Linked DNA regions of Homo sapiens: region 1 is linked to region 2. Evidence: fine-mapped expression QTL. A gene starts in region 2. The other region holds a variant in brackets. All regions are shown on one strand. Distances are between the middles of the regions.

Region 1 (11,827 bases), 120 kb before region 2:
TACTGGCTGCTTCTGAGACAGGTCCAGTGGTGATGAATCCCCCAGGTAAGAGGTGATCCAAACCTAAGCTGGATATTGACTAGATCAAATGTTTTAGAGTAAATTCAACCTGGAAAAGGGTGCAGTAGTTAGACTGAGAGTTTTCAACCGAATAATCTCTGCTGAGAAGCCTCCTACCTCTCCCTGAAACCAGATTTGTCTTCTGATTGTTCTAGAAACCATACCCATGTCCGCTCATACCTCCTTGCCTTTACCCACTCTTTCTTTCTACAAGGGATGCCATTTTCCCTCTTGACGCTCCATCTAAAAAACTCCACCCTGCAGGTTGTAGCAAAAGTTCATCTTCTGTGTGAGCTGTTGCCCAACTGCCCATCCCACACTCCCCTCTTCTGCACCCAGTGGCTCCTGCCAGCTTAGAACTTAAGCCAGACATGACCCAAGGATATAGTTTTGCTTTGTTTTGTTGCCCCATATAGTGTCTACAATTTTTTAGATTTTTGATAGTGTGCTAACTGGAGGATTTCTATAAAAATCTAGATTTCTGACTTCTGAAACTGCCTCCTGAATTTTAACCCTAGGACCTCATTTCTGCACAACAAATTGTTAAAGCTTATTATGAGTTCCTTCTTTAAAAGAGATTGATCCTGTCTCTGGTGAGCTCGCCTCGTCCATTTACATTACCTGTCTGAGTTTTGTAGGCATCTAAGTTTGCAACCTGTTATTTAGACCATGGACTCTCAAAGCCCAGTCTGCACAACAAGATTTGCCCTGTCCAGACCTTAGAGGCCTGTCTTCCAGTAGACACCAGTTGCATTGACACCATTGTTGATTCCTCAAATCCTGCCCTGCTTTGGAAAATAGCTCCTTCATTAAACTCTCTTCAGGTAAACCCCGTGAGACTGCCACTGTTTCCTGAAAGAGCAGGGGGGCTTAGCATAGTGCTCATTCTGTGCCAGACAATCTTCTAACGTGCTTCATGTTAATCCTCACAACATCCTTATGAGGTAGGGATTATTCTCATTTTGCAGATGAAAAAACAGAGAGGTCATATGGTTAGTAAACAACAGTGCCAGGATTCAAACCCACAGAGTATGGTTCCAGTTTTCAACCTCAACCACCATGCCAACCTCCCTCTGTTGCATTATTCTATTGTAGATGTTATATTTTTATCATATGTCACTTTTGTTAAGTTGTGCTCTCTGTCTAGACTGTGAGATCCTCTAGGACAAAGACAGGGATTTAGTTATCTCTGTTCTCATTGTCTAGCACAATGCCAGGCACATATTAGGTCTCAATAACTGTTTACTGATTCAGTCAGTCAATAGCACTTTGTGAACCATAAAACCCTCTACAGATGCCAGATATTCCAATCTCAAATTCACAGGCCTATGGAGACCCACTCCCACTGAACACTTCAACGTAAGGCTCTATAAGTACCGAAAGAACGGAGCACAGATGCAGTAGCTCAGCTTCATGGCCTCAGCTGGCTCAGCAAAGTTTCTCATTATTAGCTCAATCACATAAAATTAACACAAAATGATGTCCTTCAATTAGTAACAGAGCAATGGGGGATGGGAAAGTGTATGTTTGTTAAGACAGCAGGGAAGCCTGGGAGAAGGGGGTTTAGCAAGAGCAGAGGCAGCGGGCACAGGCTCCCAGCTCACTCCGCCTCATTAGCGTCTCTGGTTTCCAACCGGTTGCTAATTGCTCCCTTATTTCCCAGTCACAGGAAGCCCTCACCATCTCTGCTCCCAGCTGCAAGGCAGCCACCACCTTGTCCTTTGGCAGAAACAGCTTAGATCAGCTTCCAGGCCAATGAAACCTGGCCCACCCCACCTGGACCTTGGTGACATGTTCAGCACAAGATGGAACAAGGGAGCAAGTGGGAGAAGAGATGCACTCAGTGAGGGCTCAAGACATTCAGGTTGCCCTGACCTGCTCTCCCATTCTCACCCCTTCCTCAGCTTTCTACTGTGGCCAAATCCAATAAGATAGGAACAATTTAAAGTTGGAATGTATCCCTTGGTAGGAATAGATTTTTTTTATTTGAGGATCATAATGAAATATTTGCCTTCTCCTCATGACCCTATTAAAATAGCAACCACCACCCCCCCACCCTGAGACTACCTTACTCTTCTTCCCTGCTTCATTTTCCCCGGGGCACTGTCACGCTATTATTGCTGGACATTTGCTATCTTCTTATACATTATCTGTCTTCCACTAGAATTTAGGCCTCACAAAAGCAAACAAATATTCACATATATAGACCCAGTTGCACACATACAAGCACACACATATATGCTCAGGCAAGCATGGAGACACGTGTACCTATTTTTTTTTTTTTTTTTTTTTTTGAGACAGAGTCTCGCTCTGTTGCCCAGGATGGAGTGCAATGGCGTGATCTCAGCTCACTGCAACCTCCGCCTCCCAGGTTCAAGTGATTCTCCTGCCTCAGCCTCCTGAGTAGCTGAGATTACAGGCGCCCACCACCACACCCAGCTAATTTCTGTATTTTTAGTGGAGACAGGGTTTCACCATGTTGCTCAGGCTGGTCTCGAACTCCTTACCTCAGTTGATCCGCCCACCTCTGCTTCCCAAAGTGCTGGGATTACAGGCATGATTCCTGCGCCCGGCCACATGTACCTATTTACATACCTGCACAGGCATTCACACAAGCACAAAGACACAGTCCCCTACATCCAGATAATCCACATAACATGTACAATGCTGCAAAGACATACCATTTTCCTGAATGATGTCAGAGGCACACTGTTCTAGGACAGACATGTTTGCCAAGATGGTCACAATCTGGAAAAGATAATTTAGAAACCTCAGAAAATGAGCACACCTGATCCTAATAGTCCTCCCTACAGACAGGTCAGCCAGGGGCTACAAAGCTTCCTTTTATCCCGTGACTCCTTCCTGTCCACCGGGCCTATCCTTCCACGGCATTTTCTTCCATCCTTATGGGCTCCTGCCACCCAGATGTATTTCCCCGGTGACTAATGCCCATTTATCAGCCTATGGCTATAGGACGGCCCCCAAGGGCCCCAGGACACCCTGGAAAGACTAGCATAACCCTGGGTGAAGTTGGGGCCCGGTTGTCTTTCTGCTCTGGTCCCCAGTCCTGAAATGCAGACAGAACCAGCAGGTCCCTGGCCCCTGAAACTCCTCTGTGCTGGCTTGTCCTCCTGACAGCTAGCTCTTACTCTGGATTGACTTCTTCCATCCAAGCTTCTTTCCTGGATACTAACCCTCACCTACTTTCAACCTGTGATGAATGAAGGCTAAGGTCACGTTAGAGGGCATGAGTAGGAAGAGGCAGCGTTATCAAGCATTGGGTATTACATGGAATCTGATGAGAAAGTGCATACTCAGCTGCACATTGCAAGTCTGTGGTAAGCCTCGCTTATCAGTCATCACTGAAAGTCTCTGCCTGTAGGAAATGGGGTATTGACACCAGGTGGACAGTGAGTCTCAGTTACAGCTTTGTGGGTTGTAACCAGCCTCCCCTGGTACAGTCAAGGGAGAAAAGAACTCACAGCACAAACTGGATTAAGGAATGGCCTGACAGAGGACTCATTCCAGGGACCCCAAACTGCAAAAGGGTGCCAAAATGCTACTGGAATAGATTGGGAACATGGCACCTGTTAACTCAGATACCACCCACAACACTGCTCCTGACATAAATAGCAAGATGAAAATTCACCCACTTTCACAGAAATGGACAGCGCTCTCAAGTGGTAATTAAAATGAATAATAAAATAAAATTTAAAAACACTTCTCACTGGTACAAGCCTCTCTCTCGAAAGGTTTCTTCAAAGCTTGCAGGATGGTATAAGCAAAAACTGTGTCCCCCCTCCGCTGAGACAGCAGTTGACAGTCTACTGAGTAGAATTCAGGCAGCTAAAATTCTGAAACTGGATAGTAATGTTATGTCTACCAAGAAAGAGTATTATCTACATTTTAATTACTCTGGATAACACATATTACTATTTTACTCTGGATAACAAATACATTTAAAAATGTCTTCTTTTAAACAGAAAGGAAAAACTTTACCATATTAATAGAATATCTATCTCTCCCCTTTCCTTCTAAACACATATTGGAAGGGGATTCCACATTCTTTGGCTGCTGCAGCATCTGTGTGTGTGACAACCCCTCCCAGCTCAGACCCCATCAGGGGCCTGGTTGGATAAGCATGACTACAGTGGGTTGCCAGAGGAAGGACAGGAGAATACTCCAGAACCTTTATCCTGAAAGCAACTCTGTACCACCAGGTGTTTTAAGAAGGGGGTGACTAGCTCCTATTTGCAGTTAAGAAAATAATAGGACTAAAGGAGGTTTAGGACTTAGAGGCTCTTTTACGTATTTATTTACTTGTTTTTGCACTTTTTAAGATTGCGTTTGTGGGCTCAGTGGAAGGAGTTAGAGGAAAAAGCTGGGTTGGAAAGTTCCCCAAGAGGCATCGTGTGCACATTCTTATGAGGGAGGAGGTACACGGCCAAGTCCATGTCAGTTTAGAGTTTGTTTGGCTATCTCTGGGCTGTTAGCAGAAAGCATGGACTCTGTTTCCACCACACAGGGGCTGAGACATCCCACCATCACCAGGCTGGCCTTTCTGAATAAAAACACTTACTTGACATGCAGATTCATGGAGGAAGGAAGGAAGGAGGGAAGGAGGGAGGAAGGGAGGTAAAGGAAGGAAGGAAGGACAAACTAGGAAAAGAAAAGGAAATCTTTGTCTGCGGCAACGGGTTCATTACACAGTAATTATTAGCCGTGTCACAGGCACCACGTAGGTCTTTGTGTCAGACTAATTTAGATCCTGTTAATGAAAATTACTTCCTCTTTACAGAGCCTGTACCCCATGTGGTTTTCTGGAGGTGCAGATGAAGTATTCAATTAAGTACAATTTGAATAAATGCCAATTATGCCCTGCTTTGAGTCCCCCTTGTGAAACATCCTTGTGTGCACCATAACATAGAGGGGAAAGAGGTCACTGTTTATCCTCACAGTCAAGTCCATGGGTGGGATTTTAGGGACAGCTGTTTTACCTGGTTGGATACAAGTTAACAATGCTGTCAGGGGGCAGAGTGCAGGAGCCAGGCAGACAGTTTCCCCAACCCAGGCTAATTCAGTCTTGTTTGATGATGTTCAATTAAGTTCTATTCCACCTAAGTGAAAGGGCACCATTCCCCCTGCATTTGTTTGGTGAATCCAGAGGACATCACCTTGAGAAAGGCCCTAGGTGAGAGGTCAGTATAATGTGATAGCTAAGCGTGTAGCTCAACCTACATCTAAATCCTGGCTCTATCACATTTTGCTATGATCTTGGCCATGTTACCTAACCTTCTGTGGCTTGGTGTATTCATTTTCTATTGCTGCTATAACAAATTATCGCAAACTCAGTGGCTTAAAATGACACAATTTTATCTTGCAGTTCTAGAAGTCAGAAGTTCTAAATGAGTCTTACATAGCAAAAATCAAGTTGTTGACAGATCTTCATTTATTCTGGGGGCTCTAGGGGAAAATCAATTTCCTAGTTTCTATTTTCCAGCTTCTAGAGGCTGCTCTCATTCTTTGGCTCAGGGGAGTATATCCTTCTGACCTTTGCTTCCTTAATCACGTTTGAGTCTCTGACTCTGACCCTCTTCCCTCCCTCTTACAAGAACTTCTGTGATGACACTGGATTCACCTGGATAATCAAGGATAACATTCCTATGTCAAGATCTTAACTCAATCGCATCTAGAAAACCCGTGTCGCTATATAAAGTAACTTATTCACAGGTTTTGAGGATTAGGATGTGGACATCCCTGGGGGCCCTACCACAAGAAATAAAAATAACTCAGCCAGGCACCATAGCTCATGCCTTTAATCCCAGCTTCTCCACAGGCTGAGGCAGGAGGATCACTTGAAGCCAGGAGTTTGAGATCAGCCTGAGCAATATAACAAGACTCCGTCTCTAAATAAATAAGTAAATAAATAAAAGGTATCTTTTAAGTCCTGTATGAGCATTCAATGAGTTAATATCAAGCACCCTTTGTTAAATAAAATAAATATGGCTCGCTCTGGGCAGGAGAACCTGAAAGGACTCAAGCCTTGAAAGACTGTGTCAAGAAACACTAGCCAAGTAACCTGCAGCACTCGGGGGGCTGAGCATCCGTGTGGCCAAGACACGCTGCTAATGTGAGATCCCTCCCAAAGGTGAGCCTGTCCCAGAGCAAGTCAACCCTTCCCATCAGAAGAACAGCAAAGTGTGTATTCACTACCTTCTGTGGCATTTTCAAATTATTTTTTCTTTGGCCTCCAAAGACATGAAAATTGAGGCAGACAGGAAATTGATCAAGGATAGCAGGGGACCTCCCATGTCACTGGTTC[G/A]AGAAGAAATGTCCCTGTGAGGTAGGAAGGAGGTTGGCGAGGCCTTTTGATGTCAGCACACACGGAGGAGAAACACTTGTCTGCAGGCCGATGCCAAGGTGTGAACCAGGCCTGCCTCACATCCTAGCAGTGTCTCAGCAGTCAGCCCTGATCACACCCTGACTCTGCCTGTGTTCCCTTGCTGGAAACTAATACTGAAGACCAAACTGCATTCAAGGCAAGTGAAGAATACCCAGGACACCCAAGTAGAGACAGGTGCTCTGATCTAAAGAACTTTCAACAAAGAAAGCCTGGCATATATTTCATGAAAAGTTATAATTACTTTTATGCTGTGCAGAAATTAGGACCAAAAGGCCAACAGCTTGTATGACTGTAATTAGAATTATTCTTTAATTGCCAGATGAATATTTAGATTTCTATTATCACCGTGTTAACTCTGAAATTTGCAGCAACAATGTCAACTGCAGCCCTGAGAACAAAAAGCAGAATAATTTTCAGCCTCTAGCAAGCTTGTCCAACCCATGACCTACAGGCCACATGTGGCCCAGGACAGCTTTGAATGTGGCCCAACACAAATTTGTAAACTTTCTTAAAACATTATGAGATTTTTTTGTGCGTGATTTTTCTTTTTAGCTCATCAGCTGTTGTTAGTGTTAGTGTATTTTATGTGTGGCCCAAGACAATTCTTCTTCCAGTGTGGCCCAGGGAAGTCAAAAGATTGGATAGCACTGCTCTAGGGGAAGCCCAGTGCTTCTCTCCACCCTCTTCCCTCCACACCACTTCCTCTACCAAAGAGCAGAAAGAATCCAGACAAGGACATTGATCTGTAGAATTAAGGGATCTAAGGGAAGAAAGGTGGATCTCTTTGAAAATACTTTCTTTTCCAAGGCCAGAGAGGCAAGAGAGCCCAGGAGAAGGTATAGCCCTCTCCTCTTCTGCTCTCTTTTGAGCCTTTTCCTCCCTCTGGCAGACATGGCCCAGGGCCCAGGGCGCAGGACCTGAGAGGGCTGGACAGGTGTGCAGACTAGGAGAAGGGCACTGACCTAGACCCAGAGACAAGCAGATGGCTTCTTCTCTCTGGTACGTGGGTCTTCTCATTGACAGGACCAGCTTTCCCTTACTACTAAAGTGGCAAGACTGGTGGGCTAAGATTTAGGCTTAGGAGACCACATGATAAAAGCCATAGAACTGTTTTGGATGTAGGTCCCGTGCTGCTGGCAAACAGGCTGAAGGGCTCTCCTGGGTGAGGCCCAGCTCCCTCGCCCCAGGGATTACATGAATGTTGGGCTGTAAACCCACCGTATTAGAGAGCATATAAAAGTCAGACCATATTCTCTGTGCTTGGTTTGCCCTTGGCTTTGTAGGGAAGGGTTTCTGGAGCAGGTCAGGACAGGGTGTTGTGATCCTGGATTCCTCCAATACTACACAATATCCCTGATATGTTTTGGATCTGTGTCTTCACCAAAATCTCATGTTGAATTGTAATCCCCTATGTTAGAGGTGGAGCCTGGTGGGAGGTGATTGGATCATGGGGGTGGACCCTTCATGAATGATTTAGCACCATCTTCATGGTGCTATTCTTATGATAGTGAGTGAGTTCTTGTTGAAAAGGGTGAAGCACCTCCCCCTTCACTCTCTCTTGCTCCTGCTTCTGCCATGCGATGTGTCTGCTTCACCTTTGCCTTCCATCATTATTGTAAGTTTTCTAAGGCCTCTCCAGAAGCCAAACAGATTCCAGCTTCATGCTTTCTGTATAGCCTGTAGAACCATGAGCCAATTAAACCTTTTTTCTTTACAAATTACCCAGTCTTAGGTAATTTATTTTTATTTTTATTTTTGAGACAAGGTCTGGCTCTATCATCCAGGCTGGAGTACAGTGGTGCCATCTTGGCTCACTGTAACCTCCATTTCCCGGGCTCAAGCCATCCTCCCACCTCAGCTTCCCAAGTAGCTGGGACTACAGGTGTGTACCACCATGCCTGGCTTTTATATATATATATATATATATATATATTATATATATATATATATATATATATATATATATAATATATATATATATATATAAATATATATATAATATTATATATATATAATATATAAAAAATTTATATATATATAAAAATGTTTTTTATAGAGATAGGATTTTGCCACGTTGCCCAGGCTGGTCTTGAACTCATGAACACAGGCAATCTGCCTGCCTCAACCTCCCAAAGTACTGGGATTACATCAGGCATTTCTTTACAGCAATGTGAGAATAGACCAATACAATTGCCACCACATTAACTATATTTCCTGACCCTACCTTCCTGTTCCAAAGCTTACATTCCCTGTCTCCGACCCATCCCAGTCTCTGGTTCTGTTAGAGAACCCATCCCATTCATTATTGGGTATTCGCTTTGCTTCTAAGTACTTTATGAGCGTTATCCCATCTAATCATCATAATGACATGAGGGAGGGAACAAATGTTATTATCCCCATTACACAGATGAGGAAATTGTGGCTCAGAGATTAAGTGATTTGTCCAAGGTCACATAGCTGGGAAATGGCAGAACCAGAATGTGAACTCAAATCTGTCTGAACTAAAAACCTGTGCTGTTTCTAATACGTCATATATGTATATGACAGAGCTTTATAAACTATAGAGAGATTTTGAGATGTGAGACAAAAATGAAACCCCTAGTGACTGGCATTCCCTGATAAATGGTATTCACAGTGAGGTCCCAGAAATGTTACAAAATCTAGTCATTCTAAAATGCCAAACAGATGAGGTATTACTGTGGGAAGTATATACTAGCACTCCTTCCCTTATGAAAGCAGTTAATTCCTGAAGGCCACAAAAAGTCAGACTCAGTAAAAATCTCTATTATATATTAGATAAGATAATCAGGTCTCTTCCATCCTAGATTGTCCCTGCTTGACGGATAGGCCAGAAGTTCACCAACAAATTTGGAGGCAGCCCGTTTCCTACCTCCCCCTGTCAGATCTGTAGCTGGATTCTATGGGCAGTATGGCTCCTGGAAAATACCTCCTGGGCATGAAAACATAGGACTATTCAGATTGCTTGTCAGGCTTCTCAATGGCTGACCATGTCAGCTGCAGCCCGTGCCACCTTCCTGTGGATTAGCTGAAGGGTATAGAAGAGCCTAGGTCCAAGGCTGCCCTCACCAACGTCCATACCCCAAGGGTGGCGACAGGATAGGCATACCCAACGAGGCTTCTGTTGAACAAATTAAGTGGACCTGGCTTGCCAGGATGATGGAAGGGTTCTCATTGTCCAAACAGAGGTAGTCTGTATAGATCCAAGACCAAGAGGCTCCACACAGCATTGGCGTCATTGGCAGATTCATTACCGGAAGCCTCATGGGGCATTTAATCTCCTAAGTATTTTAGGGGGCAGTGAGCACTTCAAAGCCTAATTCATCTTCTTTGTCTTCATTACAGAGAGCCCTCTGATCACCTTAATCCTCCCACTGCAACAGGAAAGAGCCATTTGTTTCTTTAATGGGTGCACTTTCACTAGCTAAGTGGTTGTTCTGAGACAGGACAGAAGGTGAAGCCATCCTGAGGACAGTGGGTGACGTGCCTGGCTCAGACAGTGGAGTAACGTGAAAAGGTACCGACTCCAGGTGCAGAGAGAACTATCTGCTGGCAGCGCAACCACATTCTCTCCCTACCCTGATCTCCTTTTCCTAGGACTCAGTGAGGCTTCAAGAGGGGGCTAGTCATTCCTTGTGATAAGAAGGGGACTTCTACACATAGAGACAGAGGATGTTCAAGATGGAAGAGGTCATGCCCATTTTACAGATGAGGGGACTCCTCTCTGGAGGGTCCCATTCAATGCTGTGTGCCACACATTCAAAGGCCAATTGTAATAACATTGACAGTGGCTTCCATTGATTTAACAGTTTCTATGTGCCAGAGTCTGTACCAAGAGTTTATATTTATTTATTAATTAATTTAATTCTTATTTCAACTTTGTAAAATATGTATTATTTGTTTCCATTTTACAAATTAAGAAAGTGAGACATAGAGTGAATTGCCCAAAGTGACATGATTATTAATAGCAAAAAAGCCTCAAACTCAGGTTGTCTGAATCCAAAATTCCTTGTCTTATTGCCTCACTACTGGATCTTGTAGGAAATGACCGGAGTCAGCCACAGGAGAGGCACTTGAAGGTGAAAGAACCTAAAATTATGTCAGGTAGATGAAAGACCCAGCAACTGGAGGTATCTATCTGAAGAGAACATGAGCATGAGTAAGGCGGATCACAAAAAGTGGGCCCTCCTGTCTCCCTCTCTACTACCAAGGGTATGTCTATGGTAGGCATGGGGCATGTCCCCCTCAGGAGTCAATCAAGCCAATAGCCAACCAGGGGGTCACCACTTTATCTGTTACTGTCATACCTTCTCTCTACAGGGACCTCTCCAACTCTTAGAAGTAATAAGATCAGACTGGAAAGGAAGTCTGGAATCATACATATCATACATAGTTTGGAGGGCCAAGTTGAGGATTTTGGATAATTCACTACTCATGCTCTTCTTTGGAGCATCAGGTTTAAAAAGTAATGATATTCACCATTTATTAAGAACTTAATAGGGGCTAAGCCTTACATCAGGTCCTTGCATATCTTATTACACTCACCCTCACAATAACCCTGCAATATAGACATTCATGTCCCAATTAATAGATGCAAAAACCCAACACCCAGGAGCCTTTGACTTGCTCAGTGTCACTCAATTGATAAATGGCCCAGGCAGGACCAACACCCAGTCTGTGGTTCAACAGCTGCACTACCTCCTTTCTTCAAAGATGACAGCAGATGAGAGTCAAAGATCAAGTTCTAAGTCAGGATTTAAATTTAATCCTCATTTAAATGCTGGCTAGCTGCCTGCCAACCATTTAATTTTGGGGACATCCTCTTGAGCCAAAATATTCTTATCTATAAAATGGGGCAAATATCACCAGTGTCACAGTATTATTAGAACCCTCATACGCAAATGCTTAGATACTAGAAAATTATCTCCGAATAGGAGCTTCTACGGTCAGCTGCCCTTTCACAGGCGATTCTGAGGATAAGAAATAACTGACAAAGTTTGGGGAACTTCACCAAGGGCACCAGCTCTAGGCTAGAGGCCTTAAAAAATCCTAGGGAACATGGATCATGCCCTCAGAGGAAGAAAATCACATGAAATAATTAAGAGGAATAACCTCATTAGATAAGTCAACACTGCATTGTGAGGTATGAATTCTAAGAAAAGGAGGCAATTCCAGAGGGCTGAAACCATCAGGGAAGGCCTTCCTGCAGCTGCTGGCATGGAACAGAAACCAAAGCAGCTTCAGTTAAGAGATAAGCCTGGAAGAGGTGATGGTTTAGGGGCTAAAATGCAGACAGGGATAAGCTGAGTTGAGGACGAGAGGATCATGTAACTTAGAGCTCAGGTA
Region 2 (11,827 bases):
CTGGCAGACATTATTCTTAAGCAAGTGATAAAAGCTCCCATCACCAGCACTGGGACAATCCCCACATCATGTGCTTGCTGATATGAAAACTGGAGAGGACATAACCTCACTGCAGTTGTATTCCTGCCCCTAATGCATTGCTTGAATCTAATCATGTAGAACCATCCACAATAACCAAATTGAGAGATATTCCACATAATAACTGACCTGTGCTATTCAAAAACACAAAGTTCAAAAAATAAATAAATAAAGCAGAACTGCTCTGGATTTGAGGAGACTAAAGAGAGATGACAATTAAATGCAATCTATGGATTGGATCCTAACTGAGGTGAGGGAGATTGGGGAGCCATAAAGACATTATTAGGACCGAATTGCACTGTGGTAAGAGATTATCCTTTTTAAGGAAATATATACTTAACGATATAGGGGCTAAAGAGGCATCATGTCTCCAATTTCTCCTCAATTAATCAGAAACATAAACATTTTCAATGTATTCATATATATAATAAAACAATAAATATATTATAAAAATATACAGTGAAATATGTTATATAAACAATAAAAATATATGCAAATAATAAAAATAATATTTTTGCATGATTGGAGAGAATGAAAGTTAATAAAGTAAATGGAAGATCATGTAAACAGTTGAAACATGAATAAAGAGAGATTTCTTATATAAGTCTTATACATTTTTATTATATTTGATATGTCAAAATTTAGAGTGACATAAAAATAGGAAGCACTCAATAAATGTTTGTTGAATGAATAAGTGAGCCCATATTCAATCATGTCCCTCCCTTCTTAAAATACCTCAGTGCTTGTCCATAAATATGACAAAAAGTCTAAACATCTCAGGACAGCAATCCAGACCAGACTCCATACAAAGCTCCTTGTAACATCTTCCATCTCATCCCCAACACTACTGACCACCCACACCATAGGCTCCAGTTATGCTAACTGCTTAAAATTCCCCAAACTTACCACGTTAGGCAACACTTGTGTGCCCTCACACGTGCTGGTCTCTCTACCTACAATGTCCTCCTCTTCCTGGCAACTTCCTGTTATCTTTCAAGATCCACACCAAGTACTTACACTTTCGGGAAGGCCTTTCTGACTGCCCCAGTTGGAGACAACACTTCCTTGCTGCTACATTAGTGCCTCTAGTACCTGATTTGATCATGCCCCACAGACAGGCCTTTATTTGTTTACAAGTCTGCCTTGCCATAAGGTCTGATTGCTACTTGAAGCCCGGGATATTCCTACTTACCTCTACCCCCAGCGCCTTGCACAGACCCTGGCACAGCAAATGATCTCAATTAATACTGAGGCATGAATAAATGAATCAGTTTTGGTTGTACTTTCTGGATCTTCCAAGAGAACCCTTAACTTTAGTCTCTTTCATCATCCTCAGAAAATGCAGAGAAGTGAGAGAAATGAGTTCTCTCATTTTATGCACCAGGAAAGGGAGGCTCAGAGAAGGTAAGTGACTTAACCCAAGATAACACAGTGTGCCCAAGGATGAGTCAGAGCTGGAATCCAGATCTTGTGCCAATTAGGCCGGTGTTCTTTCACAGAAAGTGGGTGGCATAAGAAAGAAGGATATTGCATTTTATGGTTTGCCTATTCTATGCCAGACACTGAATTTCAAATAAACTTTCCAGTTCAAGCACCACATTGCCTTATGAGGAACCCCATTTTACAGATGAGGAAACTGAGGCTCCAAGTCAGATCTGTCTGGCTGCAAAGCCCGTGCACTCTTTTCCGCACATTGCCAGTATGTACCGCCCACCTCTGACCCTCCATCAAAAGAAGTGAGATGGCCTGAGCCAATTGTTCTGTCCCTCAACAGTGTCTTTAAATCCAGCACCACACACAGGCCCACAACGTAGCTTACACCCTCCAACCACAGGCCACATTTCACATGGTTTCCAAACCCAGAATATTTGGTTTGTAAGACAAAACCTTCATTTCTCCAGCAGAAAGTGAACAGTATACACAACTACCCAGCCAAACTGCTGACGCCTACAGACACTGCATCACACCAAACAGAGTCTGATCTGCCCCAAGACATCCTCAAAGCATCCAAGACTCCCCCAGAGCTTGGCACTGAGGGGACCCTGGAGCTGGGGGAGGGGAGATCAGACCGGCCAGATCGCAGAGTCTGGGCAGAGGCTTGGTTCCCAGGACAGAGGTTGCTCCATGGAGAAGTGAAGGCACAGAAGTTCAACACTGCCCACTGCATGTTGGTGGGGGGTTGAAAGACAGAGGGAGAGATCCCCACACAACCCAGGAGGCCTTTCCCACCCCTTCAATCCCTGCTTCTCACACAGCAACAGTCTCCAGCTGAGGCTGGAAAGGCCAATGATGCTGATCACGTTGAGGTCCTGGAGACAGACAGAGAAGTCAAGCCCCTTAGCCTCATTCCCCAATTTGCCCAAAGGAGTAGTTTTTTCTGCTTTGAAAGCCTTTGAAATGAGGGAGTTGCCGGCATCTCTCGTGGTCAGTGGACATTCACTACACACTCTGGAGTTAGACAGATCTGGAAAGGAATCTTTGCTAGCTCTGACCTTGGGCTAGTTGTTTAGCCTTGCTGTGTTTCTGTTTCCTTATATTTAAAATAGTCTTCACTATTTCATAGAGTTGGTATAGAGGTTTCATGAAACAAAAGATGGAAAGAGCCTAAAAAGGAAGCTGGACAGTAGTCAATAATAAATAAAAGTGAGTTACTGTGAGTTACCTTTCCTGCACAGAAGTCCTAACTATCTCACACAATGCTCTTACTGGCTTTTAAGCCTGTTTTCACTTGGTTGAGCTTAAAGCCCAGGGGACAACCAGAGTCTAAATAGTGTGAAAATTCAGCAGAGATGTGGTCCAGTCTTAGTCTTACCTTTTTAAGATAACACTTTTCTGGGAAGGAAAAAACACCTCACCCATACCAAGCCACCAGCACATTACTCAGTACCAGGCCACAGGGGATTTCCTCTTTCCTACCTTGTGATCAAATGCTTCTGGGAGGATATATCTTGAAGGCAGGCAATGGCCACCAGCTTGGGTTGACATAAGATATAATGAGAAGCAGGACCTCAATGCAATGCCTGAAAGCCCACCATTCAAGTTATTCTAATCATTCTTTGTTGCTAAGCTTTACCCTCCAGCTTTCTCCTTTCCAAACATGAGTGGTCTTGGGCAGCATAAAATAATTTGACTTGGAGTGAATTAGAAGTTTCACCAACTTTGCAATGTGGCTAGAACCCTGCCCTGCATTCAGATGAGGTGCACCTCTGCAGATAAGAGGTGACAAATGATTCCCTGACCACTTAGCCTCACAGACCCAGGCAAGGAGGCAGTAAAGCCCTTCATGTGCTCCTCCACACTCCTAAGTCCAAGCTCCCCATCCCAAGCTCCAGTTCCACAAGGGCCATCCCTGATCAGAGATGTTGTGTTCCATACTGGGGGAGGGCTCAGATCCAAGAGACACAGAGAGCCCTGAGTTGGGCAGGGTCACATGAGGAAGGGGTGGCTGCGGGGCCAGGGCCAGGCTTAGGGCAAGGGTCAAACTCCTTCGGGCACCCAGACACTTGAGCTTTTGAGACAGGGAAGAGCTGGCAGCTGAAACACTCGGAGCAGGGGGTGTTTATCAATGGCCCAATTCATTCTCAACTATCCCCCTTGTCTGAGCCAGCACAGAGATGGGCATTATGTCCCAGAGCTACTAGGAAAAAAACCTCCAAGACATCGTCACCAATTAGAGTTCAAAGGTACAGAAGCCAAATTGAGACATATGAGTTGAAAACCAGATGACATATTTGAAATTGAGGATGTCCCAGGAAAATCCAGTGTGATTCCCATCCCCAGAGACCAATAGAATGCTTAATTGCTGGTTTTTCATTTATTTGTTCTGATTTCCTTCAACAAAGGATGTGGAAGTTTACAGTTAAAAATATGTATTCTATAAAGTTGATAAAGCAGAAATTAGAAGTCAAAGCAATGGTTCCAACTAACATAGTTATTACAACAGAGCCATATGATGGACTAAGAGCTTCCCAGCAAGCAGAGTGACAAGGGAAGCACAATGGGAAAATAATTCCTTCCCCTGCCACCTTTATTCTGCTGGACTGACCATAGCCTGCCCTTTTTTAACCATTCCCAAGGGTCAGGTGTAGGATCAGGCCAAAGAGAAGCTAGATCCCAGCATTCCCCTCAAAAAATGGTTGAACCCAACTTGCTCTCCTGCATATTAGAGGAGTTGGTGGGTGAGAGCTTAGTCACCCCTTAGACTAAACCATAAACACTAAGAAAGAAGAAACTCAGGCCAGGCATGGTGGCTCACACCTGTTATCCCAGCAGTATCGGAGGCCTAGGCAGGCAGATCACCTGAGGTCAGGAGTTCAAGACCAGCCTGACCAACATGGAAAAACCCCATCTCTACTAAAAATACAAAAATTAGCTGGGCATGGTGGTGGGGGTCTATAATCCCAGCTACTCAGGGGCTGAGGCAGGAGAATCGCTTGAATCCGGGGGGCAGAGGTTGCAATGAGCTGAGATCATGCCACTGCACTCCAGCCTGGGCGATAGAGCAAGACTCCATCAAAGAAGGAAGGAAAGAAGGAAGGAAGGAAGGAAGGAAGGAGGGAGGGAGGGAGGGAGGGAGGGAGGGAGGGAGGGAGGGAGGGGGAGAGAGAGAGAGAGAGAGAGAGAGAGAGAAAGAAAGAAAGAAAGAAAGAAAGAAAGAAAGAAAGAAAGAAAAGAAAGAAAAGAAAAGAAAGGAAGGAAGAAAAAAAGAAAGAATGGAAGGAAGGAAGGAAGGAAAAGAGAGAAAGAGAAGGAAGGAAGAAAGGAAGGGAAGGAAGGAAGCTCAATACCATCTTTCTAACTTCCCAGCTGAAAGAGCACATTTAGTCTGGGTACCTCACTGAAGTATTCAGAAGAGAATAGCCAGGATGGGACAGGTCTAGAAGCTCTACTAAGAAGAATAACACCACCACTCAGCTGGTATTTTAGGGCACCTACTCTTCCAAGCGCTGTATAGTGTGTGCCCAGTGGTCACCAGGGGGAGGAGGTCATGGAGAAGATTCTGTCCAGAAAAAAAGATAACCACTGGAAGAAAGGAAAGGAGCAGAGCAAATGCCATCCCTCCACCAGCCTGTGGGAGGGAGACTCAAAGTAGGGTTGAACGAAACCAAAGAAGAGAAAGAATCAACCCAGCTCAATTCACTGTCCTCCCTGCCAAATGGTTGCCTTGGGACCCAACCCAGAAAGGTCACTGCTTCTCTGCAGCAAGTGTAATCCAGAGTATAAACTACAGCATGGAGCAAATTATATATGCTGAGCTCCATGTCAGATCCCAGCCTGACCTGGCTTGCCTTCCAAAGGCAGTGTTTGGAAGTTTTCACTTCTAAAAGGGCGAACAGTGCTTCTAAGTCCCAGAGCTAAAGGGACAAGATGCTCTCTGGCTGAGCTCCATGGACAGCCTCAGTTTCAGATTCAATGGAACCCCTCAAAGGCACCACATCACCATCTGCCCTGACCCCCACAGCCAAAGTCCCTGACTTAAAATATTCCCCACTGAGGCCAGTTTCTTGGACCCATTGTCAGAGGTATAATATATAGATTAAAAGGGGCAAAAGTGGGAGGAGGCTAGCGGCTGAGGGTGGGGCCACACCAGGGATACATTTGCGCATATGCATTGAACAAAGTGGGTGCATGTTGCATACATGTCGTTGTCCACAGGTATACATGTTGAAAGTGTGAATGGTTGCATGGCTATCCTGAGAAGAGTGTGTGCAAGACTGGTGCACATGGACAGGAATGTGTGTATGCTGAGCATGTAAGCGTGGGTGCACTGCGAGTGTTTGTGGGTGGCCATGGCCATATGGTCCACTCATCCCCTGGCCTCCTGTCTCTTCTCCTGGTTTAAGAGTGGGGTCTCCCAAGCTGTCTCCCTGACCCTGGTCTAGCCAGATGGGGTTAGTCAGAGCCACATTCACTCCAGTGTTGTGTGAGGGCTCTGAGCTTCTGTCCTTCTCCAAGCCCTGAGAAACCAAAGCTGAATGACCCACAGAGAAGACACCCCAGCTGGGACAAGTCAGGTCACCTTAGAAAGCCTGAGTTCAGATAACACTCCCTAGCCCCAATTTCTGCCTTCCTGGGTTCACACTGGCACATCCACTCATCCACATGTGGACTGGCTCAGCCCACCTGGGGGCCTTCCTGCCACACACACAGGCATTTCCACAGGTACAGACACAGTGCACCCAGGGCAGCAGGTGCCACACAGGCAAATACCTGTGGCCCACTCCAGGCCACCACACACTCTGACACACTCGTTCACCCACACTCGCACCCTGGGGCACATGCTAGAAAATTCCACATGTGGACATCCCATCCAGACACACTCCCTCACACTGGCGCAAGCTCCCCTTCACAAGCACTCCCACTGACACACTTACACCTACTATCCAATTAGTGACAAACCTGCACTGTTCCCAACTAGGCTAGCAGAGGCATCACCAGCCCCCTGAATCCAGCTAGGGGAGCTGTCTACTTACTTAGCGTGCGAGACAGGCTGGTAGTGCGAGCGGCCAGTGGTGGCGGGGCGCAGCTGGAGCTCCAGAGGCCGCGCGCAAAGTGGCCGCTCTGCCGGCCCAGCCCGAGAGGCCGCCCCTGGCCCCCGCCCCACCCCCCGCCCCGTTCTCCCCCGCCCGCCCTCTCCGAGGCGGTCGCAGCCTCCCAAGGACCTTCCACAGCAGCGCGCTCCCTGCCAAGCCTTGGTCCCGCGTCAGCCACGGCTGCCTGCTGTCTCCGCGGGACTACGAGGCTATTTCGGTGCCCCTGGGGGGGGAAACATGGCCCTCCCTCCCATCTGCAGGAGCGCTGGAATGGGGACGCGGTCAGGCCTAATTAGAGACCGGGCTCCCCCGGGCCAGGCGGCAGGCACCAGGGTGATCGCCCGGGAGCCGCGAAGCCGTCCAGGCGGGGTCGCCCACAAGGTGCCCCGCATGCCAACATCTGGAGAGGGGAAGGGAATGTGCCGCGATCGTTTCCCTTGGAGCTGAAACAAAACAAGGAGGGATTTGGGTGCAGTTCACTTGCTAGGAAGGAGGAAGCCACCCAGCTTTGATAGACCCCAAACGCCTAGAATGAGACGGTTTATTCACCGCAGGTGCTTCCCTCTGGAACCTTGCTCACACACACCTAAGTCACCCTCCACATCTTGGACCTGCCAAAAATGACGAGGGGTTGTTGCAGAAACTCCTTCTAACTTCGGCACATAAGATCAGACCCCACCCCCCACCCCCCACCCCCGTCCTGGACTCTGTCAAATAGCTAAATCTAGAGGAACTTGATTCCTACCCAAAAGCTCGGGAATGTGGCATTTTTGACCTGGAAGAAAGCTTCCAGATCATTTCATACAACTCCCCCTCCCCCGCCTCCGCCATCTTGCTATGAGGCTCCCAGAGCCCAGAGAATCTTGACCTATTCTTGGAGGTCCTCAAGCAAAGGCAGCCCCTGGTCTCCCTTGAGCCCTGTTCCAAAGCTTGAACTCTCTTACTGACAGAAAGATCTCCTTGACATCTAACCTAAATCTCTCACATGCAAACTATGTCAATTTGCTCACAATATGTATTCAGGGAGAAGGAGCTCAACTCAGTCCCCATGACAAAACGACCACGCCGAGGTCCCACTGCAGCCTTCTCTTCCTTAATGCTAATAATCTCTATTTCTTTTTTCAGGCTCTGGCTGAAGCTAACTGCTGCTCCCTGGACTCGAACACACACAGTAGCTCTCTGATATTAACTCTCCTCCTCAGCTCTCTGGGGGCCCAGGGCTCAGAAGGTGGCCAAATCATTCCTCTCAGACAAGCCAGCTTCAACTCTACCCTCCAGTCATCCAGAACAGCCTGATTCTACTCCCCAAGTTCCCTGAGAGGGGCCTCAGTTCCTGTTTCAACAAGTGCTGTCTAGGGCTGGGGACAGGGCTTGGTGCCGCCTGGCTGGGCATTACCACTGAAACCACAGTCTTACAGACTGTTTGCAGAATCTTCTCTCTGAGTCTGTTTCCGGTAGGGCAGGTGGTATGATAAGAATAGTCTCAGCCGGGAGTGGTGGCTCACGCCTGTAATCCCAGCTCTTTGGGAGGCCAAGGTGGATAGATCACAAAGTCCGGAGATTAAGTCCATCCTGGCCGACATGGTGAAACCCCATCTCTACTAATAATACAAAAATTAACTGGGCGAGTTGTCATGTGCCTGTTACCCCAGCTACTCAGGAGGCTGAGGCAAGAGAATAGCTTGAACCAATGAGTCGGAGGTTGCAGTGAGCCAGTGAGCCAAGATTGTGCCACTGCACATCAGCCTGGCAACAGAGTGAGATTGCATCAAAAAAGAAAGAGAGAGAGAGAGAGACAGAAAGAAAGAAAGAAAGAAAGAAAGAGAGAGAGAGAAAAGAAAGAAAGAGGAAGGAAGGAAGAAAGGAAGGGAGGGAAGAGAGGGAAGGAAAGGAAGGGAAGGAAAGAAGTCTCCAATTCTTCCTCAAAGAAACCTGTTTTGCATCCTGCCTCTACTACTTTCTAGTGATGAGTCCTTGGACAAATCACTTAACCTCTCTGAGCATCAGTTTTCCCATATGTACATTGGGGAACATAAAAATCTCTGCCCAGCTCATGAGGTTGTTGAAAGTATGAAGTGAGGTCAAGGATGTAAAGCACCTGGAAAACTAAGATATTTTATTATATGCTAGAAATAGAATGAGGCTTAGATCATAAACAGATCGATGTTAGCAAAAAAGCCTCAAAGTTCTTTTATTTCCAGGCCCAAACTCTGTGTCTGGGTTTCAGGGTAAGAGAGGAACAGACTTGGTTTGTTAGATGTTCCCTGGAGGCACTTGGCATAAATGCCCCCCCCCCACTTCCCAATACACACACACACACACACACACACACACACACACACACACACACACTCACATCCACCTTCCCAGATACATACGGCACAGCACAGCCTCCTGGACTCCTGGACTCCCCATAGACCCCAGCCACCTGGACCTTCGCTGGCCGCCTCTCCATTGCCAGGGGGCCGTCTCATGGCTCCAGCCTTGGCTGCAGCGACTCCAAGTCTCCTTACAGAGGCCCCTGTGAACAGCTTCTTTCCCTTTGCCCACCCTTCTGGGCCATGGCCCTGAGAAGGCCTGTGACTCAAGGCAAAGCTTGTCCAAGGCAGTTCAGTACTGAGGCTGCCCAAGGGAGCTCAGAGTTGAAGCTTCCTCCCCCTCGACCCCCTCCCCTCTGTCTGCCTGACTTCTCAATGCTGTGCTGTCCTGCTTAATTCTTAATGGAAATTCCATCCCCGGCGCCGGCCCTAGCTGGCTCAGGGAGTCCAGGCTTGGGCCAACAGCAAACTCCACCAGAGAGACTGGGCCTGTCTGGCTATATAAACACACCTAAACACATATATACATGTGTGTATACACACACCAGCAGCAAGACATGCTCAGAGACATTTACAAACTCAGATATTCTCATCCAGACACATCCAGACACAAAGATAATATACATTCTAATCATTAACATTTATTGCATATACGAGAACTTCATAGGTATCAATTGCTCTAATCCTTAGAACAGTACTAGGTTCTGGTATTATCCCTATTTTACACATGAAGAAACTGAGGCCCAGGGAGGGCCTCAGTAAGTAACTTACCCAAGACATTGATAATAACAGCCTAACACATGAGCACCAGGAACTGTGCTAAGAAGCTTATGTGCATGTTTCATTTTGCTGCCATAGTAACCTTTTATAAAAGTTATTATTATCCCCATAATACAGACACAGAAAAGGGAGGCCAGGTGGTTTAAATCACCTGTCTGTGGCCTCACAGCTGGTGAGATGGAGACTCTACACAAATACACATGGGAATCCTTATGGATGCACAGAAAGACACACAGGTAAAGACACATGCACATGCTCAGAGGTGTACCCACAAATAGCTTATTTCACCTAAACCAAAGTAGGCGCCTCAGGACTGGTCCAGAGCTGTATCAGGCAAAGGTCCCCTCCAGCCTGACTCCACATTCTTCTCCTGTCCAGATGGCCTATCCCAGATCCACCAGCTTCACACATCACTTTAGGAAGGACAAGTTCAGACCTAAATGGAGGAAAGACTTCAGGTTTACACTGCAGTCTGCCAGGTTCATAGTCAACCCCCAGCCTCAGCTCCAAATTGTTCCCCCAGTATTCCCTAGATAGTCACTGAAAGAAGCCTCAGCTACACTCTTCTGAAGGGATCGCACTTCCAAGGAGGGAGCACCTCCGAGGCTCTGAGCACTGACCAGCCTCCAATGCTAGGATCCTGTCCTTCAGGCCCAGATGAATATAAACAGGGCCCTTGGGACAAGGCCTGGCACAGGAGCCCAAGCATTGGGTAGAGCAGAGCACGTGTTGCCCGAGGGAGTTGAAGTTATACTGTAGGAAGATGGCAAAACCCTGGTGGAACGAGAGGAGACAGGGATTGGGGCCAGGCCACTCCACCCTCTCCTGCATTTGTTCCACCACATACTTCTTGTGGCTTATTGGCCACGTAGGGGAGGGCAGAAAAGTCCTTTTCCTTTTGGGACAGGCAATGAAGTCCTGAGTCCAGAGAGTTGAGAGGACAGACATGCAGGAGAGATCCAAAGAGTTCAGTCCGCCAGGAGCTTATCCACTGCTTGAAGTTGCCATGCTATGCTAGGTATCTCCAAGGGGCAGGATGTGTGCTGGCCTCAGGCCTCCTTCTAAGCAGCCACAATAGAAAGTGCCTAAGAAGGCCTGTTATAGCCAGGGTAGTCTCTATTGTCTCTTGTGATTTCCCCTATCCCCAACCCAGAATTCCCCAACTGTTTCTGTTGTCACAAGCTCATCCACCCTGTAGTCAGAGAACATAGCCCAGCATGGCAGTCCCATGGGGCACCAGCATTGGAAGAGTTTTTTGAGGGAGGAGTGCTTAATCTCCACAAATGAATAAGGAATCATGGTGATTCAGGCAATAGCTCTAAGATGGGGAGATATTCTGAGCTGAAGAATTTGCATTTCTAAAAAGTTCCCAGGTGATGTTGATACTACTGATCTGGAGATCATGCTTTGAGAACCACTACTCTCTAGAATAAGAGAAAGTCAGGGATGATTCCAGTTCAAAACTAAATTTCCAACCTAATTACAGCATAAAGATGATCTCTTCTGAAAGCTCCTTAAATGTACAATCCTGGGCCAGGAGCAGCGGCTGACACCAGTAATCCCAGTACCACTTTGGGAGGCTGAGGTGGGAGGATAAGTGGAAGCTAAAAGTTCAAGACCAGCCTAAACAACAAAGCTATACCTCATCTTTGAAAAAAAATAAAAATAAAAAATTAGCCAGGAAAAGTGGTGTGCACCTGTGGTCCCAGCTACTCAGGAGGCTGAGGCAGGAGGATAGGAGGAAGACTGCTTGATCCCAGAAGTTCAAAGTTACAGTGAGCTATGATCACACCACTGCACTCCACCCTTGACAACAGAGTAGGACACTTTCAAAAAAAAAAAAAGAATTTTTAACCTTTTCAGTAGTTTGTACACTTTTTTGCCTAACTTTTCTCTTCCCAACTTCTGTGTCACCCCTGCCATCTATTGGTGGGTCTTTCATGGGCTCTGTCATGGCTCTCTCTGCCCCAGCACACCTCAAGACAAAAAACAGCATCCTCCACTCTGTCCTCTATCTGCACAGAGAAGTTATCAAGATGAGGGACCTGCACAAAAATAGCGATGGCCAGGCAGGCTCTCAGTTCCAGGGATGGAGATAAGAGATCAAAAGGTCATAGT

The links.
Region 1: its variant is fine-mapped to the expression of INSC in whole blood (INTERVAL, PIP above 0.99).

What each region holds. Positions count from the first base shown.
Region 1 is chr11:15,226,583-15,238,409 of GRCh38, reverse strand. It overlaps INSC (INSC spindle orientation adaptor protein), which reads right to left. Exons shown (of 13, transcript NM_001042536.3): 10 at 2,742-2,808. Among named protein-coding and RNA genes, the nearest start is that of INSC, 120 kb to the right of the region's middle. The variant G/A (reference allele first, on the strand shown) is at 6,383.
Region 2 is chr11:15,109,728-15,121,554 of GRCh38, reverse strand. INSC (INSC spindle orientation adaptor protein) reads right to left here and starts at 6,632. Exons shown (of 13, transcript NM_001042536.3): 1 at 6,552-6,632. RefSeq lists enhancers at 6,925-7,458, 8,110-8,159.